Homo sapiens: one gene and its partners. The protein of the gene in region 1 purifies or fractionates together with the protein of each later gene. This does not show direct contact. Each region holds a gene or a part of one and is shown in the gene's direction. Other genes may lie near its edges.

Evidence for each region. Proteins that work in one complex are often made in the same cells at the same time.
Region 2: the proteins of ZFAND6 (region 1) and CDV3 fractionate together in Homo sapiens (co-fractionation; one large-scale study listed by BioGRID). This does not show direct contact.
Region 3: the proteins of ZFAND6 (region 1) and TXLNG fractionate together in Homo sapiens (co-fractionation; one large-scale study listed by BioGRID). This does not show direct contact.

The regions. Positions count from the first base shown.
Region 1 is NC_000015.10:80,065,588-80,070,777, forward strand, and holds part of ZFAND6 (AN1-type zinc finger protein 6), read left to right. Parts: intron 1-5,190. UniProt on the Homo sapiens protein: Involved in regulation of TNF-alpha induced NF-kappa-B activation and apoptosis. Involved in modulation of 'Lys-48'-linked polyubiquitination status of TRAF2 and decreases association of TRAF2 with RIPK1.
Region 2 is NC_000003.12:133,578,970-133,584,159, forward strand, and holds part of CDV3 (protein CDV3 homolog), read left to right. Parts: intron 1-5,032; coding exon 5,033-5,181; intron 5,182-5,190.
Region 3 is NC_000023.11:16,826,750-16,831,939, forward strand, and holds part of TXLNG (gamma-taxilin), read left to right. Parts: intron 1-1,344; coding exon 1,345-1,515; intron 1,516-1,567; exon of another isoform or gene 1,568-2,216; coding exon of another isoform or gene 2,217-2,270; intron 2,271-2,826; coding exon 2,827-3,021; intron 3,022-5,190. UniProt on the Homo sapiens protein: May be involved in intracellular vesicle traffic. Inhibits ATF4-mediated transcription, possibly by dimerizing with ATF4 to form inactive dimers that cannot bind DNA. May be involved in regulating bone mass density through an ATF4-dependent pathway.

The DNA.
Region 1 (5,190 bases):
CAGGCTGGAGTGTGATGGCATGATCTTGGCTCACTGCAGCCTTTGTCTCCAGGTTCAAGTGATTCTCATGCCTCAGCCTTCTGAGTAGTTGGGATTACAGGGGTGTGCCACCACACCTGGCTAATTTTTGTGTTTTTAGTAGAGATAGGGTTTCATCGTGTTGGCCAAGCTGGTCTCGAACCCCTGACCTCAGGTGATCTACCCACCTCGGCCTCCCAAAGTGCTGGGATTACAGGCGTGACCCACTGTGCCTGGCCAGTTTTGAATTTTTTAACTTAAAAAAATTGCAACTTTTATAATATTTTATGTTTTATAATGAAAAAATGTAATCCTATTGAATGTTCCTCTGAGCATAGCTTTAGCTATATTACTTAAATTTTGATGAGTAATATTTTTATGTTTATATATTTAAAAACCCCTGCAGTTGCAGTTTTTATTTTTTCAACAAGTATTTAAGCACCTGCTCCATCTAGACATTCTGCCAAGTGCTGAGGACACAACTATGTACAAGACAAGGTCTCTTGCCTTCATCCAGTTACAGTCTGTCAATATAGACAAACCAACGAATAAAGAATTTTCAGATTTCGACAAGTGTCTAGGAAGTAAATAAATAATAGAAGGTGCTAATTGGATGATCTGAGACTGTCTCTCTGAGGATGTCATGTTTAAGTTGATTGGTGGTACCAAGGTGTGTATGGGAGTTTCTTTAGCTTTCCCAATCTATCGAAACATAAAAAAAAAAAAAAACGGAGTCTCACTCTGTTGCCCAGGCTGGAGTGCAGTGGTGTGGTCTTGGCTCGCTGCAACCTCTGCCTCCTGGGTTCAAGCAATTCTCCTGCCTCAGCCTCCTGAGTAGCTGAGATTACAGGCATGCGCCACCATGCCCAGCTAATTTTTGTATTTTTAGTAGAGATGGGGTTTCACCACGGTGGCCAGGCTGGTCACAAATTCCTGACCTCAGGTGATCCACCCGCCTCAGCCTCCCAAAGTGCTGGGATTACAGGCGTGAGCCACCACGCCCAGCCGAAATGACTAAGTTTTTTTGGGAAAATATTTTGTGAAAATTGCTTTGCAGGCCTGGCTGAGATCACTTGATGTCAAGAGTTCAAGACCAGCCTGGCCAACGTGGCGAAACCTCATCTCTGTTGAAAATACCAAAATTAGCTGGGCGTGGTGGCCGGTAGCTGTAATCCCAGCTACTCGGGAGGCTGAGGCAGGAGAATCACTTGAAACTTAGAGGCGGAGGTTGCAGTGAGCCGAGACTGCACCACTACACTCTAGCCTGGGCGACACAGTGAGACTCCATCTCCCAAAAAAAAAAAAAAAAAATTGCAAACAGTTTGAAGCCTCTTCCCCATCTTCCAGCTGGATTGCTGCTCCAAAGCTTGTCCTGTGTAGAAAATTTGGAACTTTGATTCTGAGTTCTAAAATCAAGAAGTTGAAGGTAGTTTCCCATGTGAAGAGAACTGCTGGCACAAATGGTACATATGCAAAGTGCTTGACTTGACTTTGAATTTGACAGAAGATTAGAATGACTGGTGTTTACTGAGGGAGGACAGTGGGACAAGCTTTGTTTCAGGACTTGTTTGGGAGACTTTTATTTTTTATTTCCAAATGGTAGGGCTGCTTCCACCCCTCCTGCCTTCCTATGGAGTTTTGATTTTGTAATCCAAATCAGTCTCCTACAAATAGCATATATTATTTTACCTCTTGTTACTTTTCTTCATTATTTCTACTGTTTTCAGTTTTCTCTACTCAAGACCTTTGCATATGCTTTTGTTTTGCTTAGTTGTGATTTCCTTGAGGAATCCTTCCTTGATGCCACAAAATAGGTTAGGTCTTTCTCTTGGCTTCATGGGCTCATTTTATATTGGGCTTTTCTTTCATAAACATTTGTAACAACTCCAGTTCATTAAGTTTGTGTGAATTGTTTTAGCATCTATTTCTTCTTCCAGAACCATAGTCTGGTAGCTACCATCCACTTGTGGCTATTTAAATAAATTTAAATTTAATTTAATATTAAAAATTCAGTTCCTCATTTGTATTAGTCACATTCTAGGTGCTCACTCAGTGGCCTTATGTGGCTAGTGGCGATTGTGTTGGACAGCAGAGAGACAGTCTTCTGCAATAATAGATACTTATCTTAATTTATAGTCCTGTGGCTAATGGCTACCATATTTTATTTAAATAGTCACATCTGACTATTGAGATATGGCAAGTCTGAACTGATGTATTAAGTTTGAAATAGGAACTTGATTTCTAGTACCAAACAATGAAAATATCTCAATTTTTAAAATATTACATATTGAAGTAGTGATATTTTACATGTATTGTGTTAAAATATACTATTACTGTTAATTTTATTTCTTAATTAAAAAAATTTTTTTTTCTTGAGACGGAATCTTACTCTGTTGCCCAGGCTGGAGTGCAGTGGCACAATCTCGGCTCACTGCAACCTCTGCCTCCTGGGTTCAAGTGATTCTCCTGCCTCTGCTTCCCAAGTAGCTGGGACTACAGGCGAGCACCACCGCGCCTGGCCTGTTTTTTTTTTTTTTGTTTGTTTGTTTGTTTGTTTTTGAGACATGGTGTTGCCTTTGTCGCCCAGGATGGAGTGCAGTGATGTGATGTTGGCTCACTGTAGTCTCAACCTCCCTGGCTCAAGGGATCCTCCCACCTCAGCCTCCTAAGTAGCTGGGACTACAGGCGCGCCACCATGCCTGTATAATTTTTAAAAATTTTTAAAATTTTTTGTAGAGATGGGGTTTCACTGTGTTGCCCAGGCTGGTCTTGAACTTTTTTTTTGAGATGGAGTCTCGCTCTGTTGCCCAGGCTGGAGTACAGTGGCACGATCTCGGCTAACTGCAGCCTCCAGCCCCCGGGTTCAAGTGATTCTCCTGCCTCAGCCTCCGGAGTAGCTGGGATTACAGGCGAGTGCCACCACGCCTGGCTAATTTTTGTATTTTAAGTAGAGACTGGGTTTCGCCATATTGGCCAGGCTGGTCTCGAACACCTGACCTCAGGTGATCCGCCCACTGTGGCCTCCCAAAGTGCTGGGATTATAGGCGTGAGCTACCGCGCTCAGCCGGTCTTGAACTTTAGAGCTCAAGTAATCTGTCTGCCTTGGCCTCTGAAAGTCTTGGGATTACAGGCGTGAGCCACCGTGCCCAGCCAATTTTTAAATTTCAATGTGACTACTAGGAAATAGAAAACCACATGTGGCTCTCATTATGTTTCTGTGAGACAGCACTGGTCTGACTCGACCATAAGTTTGTACAGTGGTAGGGACTATATCCATTTTATTTACTGTGGTATCTTCAGCGCATAACAGACGTTCAAAAGATTTGGTGAATGAATAAACTAACTCTGTTAACTTTTGAATGTTATTGCATAGTTTACAGAGAATGTTACCTATTCAGCTTTTGCTTTTCAGAATTGTTTTCTTTGTGACTGATTAAAATGGTTGAGAAAAGCTCTTTCAGTAACTATATAAAGAATGAGTCTTCGTCTTTTATGTAATATTTTATTTATTTTTTTCTGGTTTAGGCCTCCAAGGAGAGAGAGAATTTAAAGTTGGCCAGTCTATTTTCTCTTAGTTTTTCTATGTCTAGCACTTTTTCTTAGATGATCTATGATATGTTGTTTGGCACATGAAAATTTATGACTTAAAATCTTAATAGTTGAGTATTATAAATGCCTTCTCTTTTATTTTTGTCTCACTATTGTGATCCCTGTTTCTTTTTATTTTGCATTAATCAGTGACCTTGTTTATCCCTTGAGACCTAAAACAAAGCAATGTACTGTTTTTTTGTAGAAAGATACCTTATCCTATCGGCTTGGTTTATGCTTGCTTATTTGTATGTTTCCTTAATGTTTCCTTTGTGTTCAGTGTTTGACCTCATATGCCATTCATTCAAACTCCCCAACTCCTCATACACACCTTGTAATCTTTTCCCTAAGGAGTCAGGAGAGATACACCAGGAATTGCAGGCTCAAATATATCTTACTTTTGCCAGGGAAATATTTTTTTTATTTTTTGTTATTTATTTATTTATTTATTTATTTAGAGACAGAGTCTTACTCTATAGCCCAGGCTGGAGTGCAATGTCTGCTGCCCGGGTTCAAGCAATCCTCCTGCCTCAGTCTCCCAAGTAGCTGGGATTACAGGCACCTGCCACTGCACGAGGCTAATTTTTGTAGTTCTAGTAGAGACGGGGTTTCACCATCTTGGCCAGGCTGGTCTTGAACTCCTGACCTTGTGATCCACCTGCCTCTGCCTCCGAAAGTGCTGGGATTTACAGGCGTGAGCCACCACACCTGGCCATATTTTTTTATTTTTTATTCCCCATTGAGGTGTTTTTCAGAGTTTATCCTTAGTGATCCCAGTTATGTTTTGCTAATGTCAGGGTGGTCTTTTTATCAACTACTACAATAAACCACCAGTCGTGCCAGAGAAAATGCCCAGGATTAATTTCTTTTGTAGGAAGAGCAGTTTGAACTATATGGAATCCTTCAAAATTCTAAGAAAGTGTTTGCCCTGTTCTGTATATATTCTGCCAAAAGTTGTTCCTAATAGTCTAGATATTGATTCTTTATGTAAGTAGGGTCTTTTTAATCAAAAGTGAAGTGGGACCAAATTGTTCAGTGGCTTGTTCTCTTCTAAATTGTTTTTAGCTGATAAGATTTGGGAAACTTTCTGGGCTTCCACAAATAATATACAATACATCTTTGAATACTTGATGCTTAAAAAGTGTTGTTACTGCATGCAATCAGGGAGCTCCAGAGCTTTTTGCAGGCTCCTTGTTCCTGAGAAGCAATATTGTTTTCATATTATCTCGGTTATACATTTTATGGTTGTGACATTGCTTTCTTTTTGTTTTTGCTGTTGTTTTCTGCTGCTGCTGATTTAGAAATGAAATAAGCTAACTCTTAATTTTAACCTGTTTGCTACCTAAAATGGTAATCATCTTGATGTTCTTTCAAGCAGGTCCCAGAGATCTTAAAATGATCCGGAATCACTGAGTCCACAGTTCTCTTTTCTCTTGGTTATGTATAGATGGAGAGTGGTCTTGGTGTTATATTAGTGTATGATTCGTATTTGTTTCATAATTAACTTCGAAGTGAAAAATTGATGCGAGAGCAAAGGTTTATTTGGTTTCCATAACTATTTACTAATTTTATGCTTGCCAGATT
Region 2 (5,190 bases), on another chromosome or scaffold:
GCATCATACCTTAGAGCTATAAAGGGGATAAAATGAATTAAAAGGTAATGTGAAATAATAGAGCCTCTAGAATCCCACACTATTTTGGCTCTGCTACTTTGTAGCCCTGGGGAAGGTACTTATGTTTCCTCATACATACATACAGTGGGTCTCTTGGCTGCCTTAGTGTTACTGTGAGGTTTAACTTTGTACAGTGGGGTGGAATGCTGCCTGCTGTAGTAGATATTCAGTAAGTCTCCCTTTTGTAGCATCATTATTCTCCTCACCTTACCAGTAGTGCCTTACAGACTTACACATATTTAAGACCGTATATGTGGAATTGTGATGAATTTACAGCAGTATTGTAGTGTTTGTTTATAAAATTTAGCTGATGGGAAGCTATATATTATATTTGGGTCAAACACTGAATTTCAGCCTGTCTCCCATGGAAATAACCGTTTGGAACGTGTTTCTTGTTCTGCTATGACATTTGGAGAGTTGATACTTTCTGAAATATGTAAAGATGAAAAAGTAATAAAATATGTAAATCATTTCTACCCTGCTAACTGGCATTTAGGCAAGCCTCTAAGCATCTCTGGGCTTCAATTCCTTCAATTGTTGGATGAAGAGTGTTTTTGGTTTGTTCGTTCTTTTTTTTTTTTGATAGAGTTTTTGCTTTTGTTACCCAGGCTGGGGTGCAATGGCGCAATCTCCGCTCACTGCAACCTCCACCTCCCAAGTTCAAGCGATTCTCCTGCCTCAGCCTCCCAAGTAGCTGGGATTAGAGGCATGTGCCACCACGCCTAGCTAATTTTTGTATTTTTAGTAGAGACAGTGTTTGACCATGTTGGTCAGGGTGGTCTCGAACTCCTGACCTCCAGTGATCTGCCCGCCTCTGCCTCCCAAGATGCTGGGATTACAGGCATGAGCCACTGCGCCCGGCTGATAAAGAGTCTTGACTAGACAATTTCCACATGTTTAGTTTAGCTAGTATTTCAGAATCTTAACCCAAAATACTTATTTATTTTTATTATTATTATACTTTAAGTTCTAGGGTACATGTACACAACGTGCAGGTTTGTTACATAGGTATATATGTGCCATGGTGGTTTGCTGCACCCATCAACTTGTCATTTACATTAGGTATTTCTCCTAACGCTATCCCTCCCCCAGTCCCCCACCCCCCAACAGGCCCTGGTGTGTGATGTTCCCCTCCCTGTGTCCATTTGTTCTCATTGTTCAACTCCCACTTGTGAGTGAGAACATGCAGTGTTTGGTTTTCTGTCCTTGTGATATTTTGCTGAGAATGATGGTTTCCAGCTTTATCCATGTCCCTGCAAAGGACATGAGCTCATCCATTTTTATGGCTGCATAGTATTCCTTGGGGTATATGTGCAACGTTTTCTTTATCCAGTCTATTATTAATGTACATTTGGAAAAACCCAAAATATTTATTTAAAAAAATTTCTTTTGGCCGGGCACAGTGGCTCACGCCTGTAATCTCAGTACTCTGGGAGGCTGAGGCAGGTGGATTACTTGAGGTCAGGAGTTCGAGACCAGCCTGGCCAACATGGTGAAACCCCGTCTCTACTAAATACAAAAAATTAGCTGGGCATGATGGCGCATGCCTGTAATCCCAGTTACTTGGTGGGCTGAGATAGAAGAATTGCTTGAACCCGGGAGGCAGAGGTTGCAGTGAGCCAAGATCAGGCCATTGCACTCCAGTCTGGGCAACAGGAGTGAAACTCCATCTCAAAAAAAAAAAATAGAGACAGAGTCTCACTGTGTTGCTATATTGCTCAAGCTGGTTTTGAACTCCTGGCCTCAAGTGATCCTCCCACCTTGGCCTTCCAAAGTGCTGGGATTAGGGCATGAGCCACTGCACCTGGCCAAGAATCCAAAATACTAAATTGTCTCCTTGTGCCTTTTATTATTGATGTACAATCCCTCTAATTAAACAGATTATGCTTATTTTTTGGTAATAGTTTGTAAACTAGGTGTATTTTAAATTTGAGATTATTTTATTTTTTAATTTTTTTCCTAAGGGCAAGGAGATGTTAGACACTAGACAGTAAAAAAAAAACTTCCAGTTGAGATACTGTCACTATTCCATCAGACCAAATAGGAGTTTTTATTTAAAAGCTTTCTGTGAGGCTGGGCGTGGTGGCTCACTCCTGTAATCCCAGCACTTTGGGAGGCAGAGGTAGGAGGATCACTTGAGGCCAGGAGTTCAAGACCAGCCTGGGCAAGACCCTGTCTCTACAAAAAAATGTAAAAAAGTAAAATTAGCCAATTGTGGTGGTCTGCACCTTTAGTTCTAGCTTACTTGGGAGGCTGAGGTGGGAGTATCTCTTGAGCCCTGGAGTTGAAGATTGCAGTGAGCTAAGATTGGGCCTCTGTACTCCAGCCTGGGTGACAGAGCAAGACCCTGTCTCTAAAAATTAATTTTTAAAAATAAAAAATGATTTTTTATGTAGGTTATAAAAATAATATGCTTGTTTTTAGAAATTTTTTTGAGAAAAATGTAGAAGCATAAAGAAATATGTAAGAATTATCTGTAGTCTCTTCTATTTAGGGATAATCAGTAAATAGTGCTGATTATTATGGGGTTGTCACCTCCATTTTACATAAGAGGAAATTGAGGTATAAAGAAATGAAGTGCCATGTTCAAAGTTTCCTGGCTGGTAAGTGGCAGAGCCTGGATTTGAACCAGGAAGCCTGACTTTAGAATCTGCTCCTAATTGCTTGCTGCATGAAGAAGATAAAGTCATACATTCTAGCACCCAGAGCTACTCTATAAAACTTTTTAAAATTGTTGTAGATGTTTTTGTATTTATATTAGGTATATAGATGTTGTTTTAGTGAATTTTGGTTTATATGACATGAATACTACCTCCATGTCAGCATAGGGTTTACATTTTAAATGGCTGCATAGAATTCTCTTACATGTTAACGAAAAGGAAAACTGAGAGATGGCTTGGCTATATTTTTATTTTAAATTGCATTTTTTTCTTTCTCAGACCTCTTAGGGATGAATTGCCATATTCTCTATCCTTTTTCCTCTCAGATAAAGTTGTAAGTAAAATCTTGCTGTAAATGTAGACGAGATAAATCTGTTCTTCTTTCCACTCTTCCTCATTGTCACTCTAGCCTCCAAATTCTGCAGTCACTTCTGGTTGGTAGGTAATTCATACAATGCTGCCATTATTTTTTATTTTTTATTTTTGACACGGAGTCTCGCTCTGTCACCCAGGCTGGAGTGCAGTGGCACAGTCTTGGCCCACTACAACCTCTGCCTCCCAGGTTCACCTGATTCTCCTGCCTCAGCCTCCCAAGTAGCTAACCGGCATGTGTCACCACACCTGGCTAATTTTTGTGTTTTTAGTGGAGATGGGGTTTTGCCATGTTGGCCAGGCTGGTCTCCAACTCCTGACCTCAGGTCATCGGCCTGCCTCAGCTCCCAAAGTGCTGGGATTACAGTTGTGAGCCACTGCGCCTGGCCAGTGCCATTATTTTTGAATGGCATTTTGCCACTTACTTTTTTCCTAAGTATCTTTAAAGGAGACTGTCAAGCTAGTCAAGAACTTTGTCTTATAGCCAGCATGTGTCTTGTTTTAATAGAAATGGAAGGAAAGCATCCTTAGATATCCTTTTGCAGAAGCCAAGAGAGGCTGTGATGTTCCTAAGGTTATACAGTTAAGAGAGTCAGGGTGATGAGTAGAAGGCAAGGGACAGAGTTTTGGGAACCAGCCTTTTTTTTATAGGAAGGTGGGGAAAAGGTAGAATGGTGAAGGAGTTGAGAAGCTTGAAGACCTAGGAAAAGCCACCATTGTCATGAAAAATAATTTTATGAAAATGTTGGTAGTTTCTGCCAGGTGTATCTTCGAGGTGAAGAGTTGCAAAAAGGACGTTCGATTTAGCCATTATTGTGCTTTAATATCCCTGTTGTCAGTATCCCTTTTGTCAAGAGACAAAAGATAAATACACTTGGTAATTTAGGACATGTAAAGTTACACAAAATAATAAAAAGTAATCCAGCAAAAAGAGAAATAATCAAAGATGCCTTGGAGAAATAGATTATGACTCAAGTCAATTCAAGAATAAATTAATTAGCATTGAGAAAATACTGCAAGCAGTCTTAAGATGGTATGTTACCACTGAGGGTATCTTTTCCATTTATAACATCTGGAAAGCCAAAGACTGAGATCTTATATATTTTTTTTAAACAGGTGATAAATACATGTCTGGTGTTAGGGGCTAATTCTATCCTCTGTAAACACTGGACACAGACTTGTTTTCATCTGCTGGAATGTGAATTCTAATTCTGAGAGTATTTTATGTGCGAAAGGATTGGCAAATAAAATTATACAACTTTCAAAACTCTTCATTTGCTCACTAAAAATATGCTTACCTTAAATGCCTGTTTGTACACTTTGGTGCAAGGAAAATTTTGTAATTGTGCTCTTAATCCTTCAGCTCACCTTCTTCTCTGCATTTCAGGTTGTATCATCCTCTCTTCCCTCCCTTAGTCGCTTGAGGTGGTAACTGGGGTCTTGCTCTTATGTGGGGCTGCTATAAATGATCAGGCATATTGTCACAGAGGCACATCAGGTTTTTTTTATTTTTATTTTTTTGAGACAGTCACGCTCTGTCGCCCAGGAGGGAGTGCAGTGGCACGATCTCAGCTCACTGCAGCCTCTGCCTTCCGGGTTCAAGGGATTCTCCTGCCTCAGCTTCCCCAGTAGCTGGCATTGTAGGTGTGTGCCCCCATGCCTGGCTCATTTTTGTATTTTTAGTACAGATGGGTTTCGCCATGTTGCCCAGCCTGGTCTTGAACACCTGACCTCAGGTGGTGCACCCATCTTGGCCTCCCAAAGTCCTGGGATTACAGGTGTGAGCCACTGTACCTGGCCTCACTTTTTAAATAAGACGTTCAGTCTCGAAAGAGATTGACTTCTTCAGGGTCGTACAGATAATCATGGATAAAACTAACGATTTGGACTGAAAATTTTCTTGGTGATTCCTTAATGAATTTACATCTTTGCTTTTCCAGCAGTGAAAAGGAAGAAGACGATAATGAAAAGAGACAAGATCCAGGTGATAACTGGGAAGAAGGTGGAGGTGGTGGTGGAGGTATGGAAAAATCTTCAGGTCCCTGGAATAAAACAGCTCCAGTACAAGCACCTCCTGCTCCAGTAATTGGTAATTTTA
Region 3 (5,190 bases), on another chromosome or scaffold:
TGGAGAAACCCCATTTCTACTAAAAATACAAAATTAGCTGGGTGTGGTGGCGCATGCCTATAATCCCAGCTACTTGGGAGGCTGAGGCAGGAGAATCGCTTTAACTCTTGTTGCCTAGGCTGGAGTGCAATGGCGCGATCCATTGCACTCCAGCCTGGGCAACTAGAGTGAAACTCCATCTCAAAAAAGCAAAACCCGGCCGGGCATGGTGGCTTATGCTTGTAATCCCAGCACTTTGGGAGGCCAAGGCAGGTGGATCAATTGAGGTCATGAGTTTGAGACCAGTCTGGCCAACATAGGGAAACCCTGTCTCTACTAAAAATACAAAAATTAGCTGGGCGTGGTGGCAGGTGCCTGTAGTCCTAGCTACTCGGGAGGCTGAGGCAGGAGAATCGCTTGAACCCGGGAGGTGGAGGCTGCAGTGAGCCGAGATTGTGCAACAGAATAATAGTCCATCTAAAAAAATGATAATGAAAATAAAAAAATCAAAACCCCAAAGCACAATAAATTGATTGTTAAAATATTTGGATTTCAGCGGGTTTTTTGCCAGGTAGGAAATGATCTAGACAGACATTCACCCAGCAAACAGCAATTCGGGACATGCCTGGCTTTAGCACTGAGTCACTCCTGGCCTTCAACATTGGAGTAGGTTTCAGCTAGAACTGGAGCTGGTTTATTTTCCAAAGGGTTAAGGCTGGAATACTTGGGCAGTGTTCCCAGTGGGCCCAGGAAAATTCAGGGGCAGGAGGTATCCAGTTGAAGGGCATCATCCTTCAAAAAGCACAAGATCATAGCTGGAAGTTGAGGAGCCCATGTTGCTTGTGAGTTGTTGGGTTGAAAGCAGGGAGAAGATCTGTGATCAGTGTCTGAAGTCAGAAAGCTGGCAAAATTCAGGACCCCAGGGGATAGCAGGCCAATACGGAAGTCAAGAAAGCCAGAGATTCAGGCTGCTGGGTTCAAATCCCACCTCACCCCTTACTGATTATCTGTACTAATTAAAGAATGTTAGGCAACTTATTAATGTCTCCAGGCTTATACATTTCTTCTATAAAACCTGGATAATAAAGGGTTGTGAAAATTAAATCTGTCTAAAGGATTTTTTTTTAAAAAAGAAAAAGATGGATTATTTTCTGCTGCCCTAAATTTGCTTACTTTTTTGTCACAACTGGAAGAGGAGAGAAGAGAAGGGTGGCAGTGTAGCATGGCATGAAACAATTTAAATAATATATTAAACCATAGTATTTGACTTTTTGAAAATGTGTTCCATAGCTCTCATTATAATTCTAGCCATAACTGTAAGATTTTTACTGTACTTCCTAAATACAAAGTGCTTATGAATTTTAGCTGGAGGAGAGCAGGAGTGTTCAGAAGCAAATGAAGATCCTGCAGAAGAAGCAAGCCCAGATTGTGAAAGAGAAAGTTCACTTGCAGAGTGAACATAGCAAGGCTATCTTGGCAAGAAGCAAGCTAGAATCTCTTTGCAGAGAACTTCAGCGTCACAATAAGACGTTAAAGGTTAGTTGCTTCATTTGTCTGTTTTTTTCAGGAGGGACTTATCTGATTTCATAATCAACCCTGTGCCTATCTGAAATAAATCCTTGTCTCTACTTGGAGACAGATACTGCCTTGCTTTTTATTTTGCTTGGCCTGATGCCTTGTGTGAGGTCATTGTAAATGTAAGACCAATTCTTTCTACGTAAGTTTTGGTTTCCTGTTCAAGGAAGAGCACCTTAGTTGCCTCATACTTGGCTCCCGGGAATCTACGCTCAAGGCCCTCCTGCTTAGAGCCATGGCTTAGGAAGCTCAGAATTGCCAGTTTTCTGCTGAGCACTGATACAGCTGATCACCAAGTAGGAAAAGCTGCAGTGAAATGAGAAACTAGTAACAGACAGTCTGGGAAGGGAGAACTGCTGAGCTCCTGGGTGGAGCATTGCCCAGTTCCACTGGCCCACCCCCAGCCATTCAGTTGCTAAGTACTTTTAGGAAACCACTTATACCTTGGCTGATTGTAAAGGAAGAGGGAATAGGTATCCAAAGATTCATTGATATCAACAGGGGAAGAAGGAAAGGAGCAGAGCCGTGGGAAGGAATCTGCCTCTTAGAATGGGACAGACTCCCTTTATGCCCTTTATGCCCCAATAAACTCCCTTTATGCCCCAACAAACTCCCAAGGCCCTAGACTATAAGTGCACTCTTGAAATGGATCTTCACCTGGTATGGGAGCCATTATTACCTTCTTTGCTTTTGAGCCCTTGGATTTAGATGTCAAAGTAAGTGGTATTTTTTTTTTCCCATAGGAAATCAATATTTTGAGTAGGCTGGTAACAGTTCAGACATGTAAAGGTCTTTTGACACTCATATCCTAGCAAGAATTGAAAGTAAGCTTTGAATTTTTTGTTTTTTCTTTTTAATCATCAGAAAGTAGTTACAGAAAGGAAGCTTTTTGAGATGAGGATTCCATTTGTCCTTTGCCCTTTAGGGAGTAAGTGTGACCCAGAAAGTAAGCTGCAAGGGGGCAGGATCTCTTCCGACCCATCTAAGATGATGGCCTGTGTAACCGGCGAGTATTGCAGTAGAGTGAATTGTAGACAGCCATAACATTTATTTTGTAGCAGGACAGTTTGCATCTCTCTGGTTATCTGTCTACTTAGGAAAAACTGCTTGCTTTTCAGTGATAGCCTTCTGGTCATAAATAAGGGGGAGGAATTGTAGTTCAGAAGCAACACGTCAGGGCAGCAACAAATGAACCCACATTGCAGCAGCTTCTCTTGTGAGCATCTTCTCTATAGGTCTGTATTATTAACAAAAATTATTTTGGGTAATAAGGAGGAAAATATGCAGCAGGCACGAGAGGAAGAAGAACGACGTAAAGAAGCAACTGCACATTTCCAGATTACCTTAAATGAAATTCAAGCCCAGCTGGAGCAGCATGACATCCACAACGCCAAACTCCGACAGGAAAACATTGAGCTGGGGGAGAAGCTAAAGAAGCTCATCGAACAGTACGCACTGAGGGAAGAGGTAATGGCATTTGGTTTATTTAAACGGCTTCTCAAGATTAGCAAAAGTGTCACCATTCATACCTAAAGTAAAACTGCTGTCACGGGTGTTTCAGAACTTTGCATATGCATAGTGGCAGTCGGTTATTTATTAGGAAACGATCAGGCACCACAAATGAGATCATCACTTGATGTCCCAGGAGTCACTGGGTTTGGGACTTATTTGAGGTTATTTCTAGGAGACCCGTTTAAGTACTGCTTGTCTTCCATGAAATACTGGAAGATTGCAATTTTCGCATGTAGATTGTTTTCCCTTATCCAGACTAATAGTGAATAAATATTTGGGCCCCAAATACCCTGTATCTCAGACATCTATGATAATCTCTACAGTATCCACTACCATTGCATTATACTTGTACAGTTAATGTTTCAGATTTTTTTTTTTTAAATGAGGGCTTTATATTATTTGGGAGGAAAAACCTACTTCTAACCCCTTCTAACCCCTCACACATAAGCCCATTGAGGGTAAAAAGTTTACTGGGAAGATCCATGGCTAATGAACTTGGCCATTGGCCTTCAATGAAGACTTTTGGAATTATTTTATAAGCTAATCTGGAAGTTCAGAGGTAGTGTCCTCTGAACAAAGCGAGGAACTTGAAAAACCAGGTTAGTACCTATTTGCTAGAAGGTACTAACCTGGTTTTTCAAGTTCCTCACTTTTAGAGGGCCGATGGACAGGGTTAGAGGCTTTAGGTTTTTTTAAATGGTGCATCTCTGCCTTTTAACATTTAGTAAAATGTTGGGCTTGTTATGTTATGTTCCTTACAGAAATGGATTCAAAAAGCTGATTCAAATTAAAAAAAAAAAAAGATCAGGCATCTGTGTGTTACTTTATCTTGTTTTCAACTCAAACTTTATAGTTTTACATACAGCCCTTCAAAAACTGCTATTTTTTTTTTAAAGATTTTATTTTTCTTACTGCCTTTTGTTTTTTTTAAAAAAAAATTATGGAAAATTTCAAGCTTAACAAAAAGTAGAGAGATAATATAGCACCTGGCTTCAGCAGATGAAACCGTAATTCCGTGTGTGTGTGTGTGTGTGTGTGTGTGTGTGTGTGTGTGTGTGTGTGTGTGTGTGTATAGAGACAGTTTCTTGCTAAATTGCCCAGGCTGGTCTTGAACTCCTGGGCTCAGGTGATCCCCCTGTCTTGGCTCCCCAAAGTGCTGGGATTGTAGATGTGAGCCACTGTACATGGCTGATAATTTCATCTCTGTTCCCCTAGATTATTTTGAAGCAAATCCAAGATGTCAAATATTCCATTGATATTTGAATGTATAGCTCAAAAAAGTAAGGATTTAAGTATAACCATAATACCAGTTTCATACCTAAAAAATTAACAAATAGGCCAGGTGCAATGGCTCACGCCTGTAATCCCAGCACTTTGGGAGGCCAAGGCAGGAGGATTGCTTGAGCCCAGGAGTTCGAGACCAGCCTGGTAATATGGCGAAAGCCTGTCTCTACAAAAAATACAAAGACTAGCCGGGTGAGGTGGTACTCACCTGTAGTCCCAGCTGCTCGGAAGAGTGAGGCAGGAGGATCACCACCACTGTACTCATGGCTGGGTGATGGGAGTGAGACTGTCTCAAATAAATAACAATTACTGAATATTAAGTATCTAGTCACTATTCAAATTTTTTGGATCAGCTTCTTTTTAAAAGAGAAATTGTTTGAAACAAGATCCAAAGAAAGTCCATTTCACTGGTTTATATAACGCCAGTCTCTAAAATATAGGTTCCCCCCCTTTATTCTTACACTGTATTTATTGAAGAAACGTCTTTTTTGTCATAGAGGTTAAATTTTCTTTTTATTAGATTATAAAGCCTTTAATTGTCTTAAAATGATTCTTTTAGTTTTGTTGTTTGTTTTGACAGTCTATGTACCTCATAACTGATGTAGCAGATTTGAAAATCAGATTTGTTTAAATCATATTGTATGTGTCTTATGTTATGTTCTTTGGTCAGAATATAATGATCAAATTACTTGCAGGCGCTCTCTTGAGAGCAGTCTGTGGTGCTCTCAATACATAGTTAGACCACCTTACTTCACCAACCAGCATTTTCCCCTCTCATGTAGGGTATTGTAACTGGAAGAGTTCCGTTTCTCCAGCTGGGAAGGGATTGTTCTGTTGACT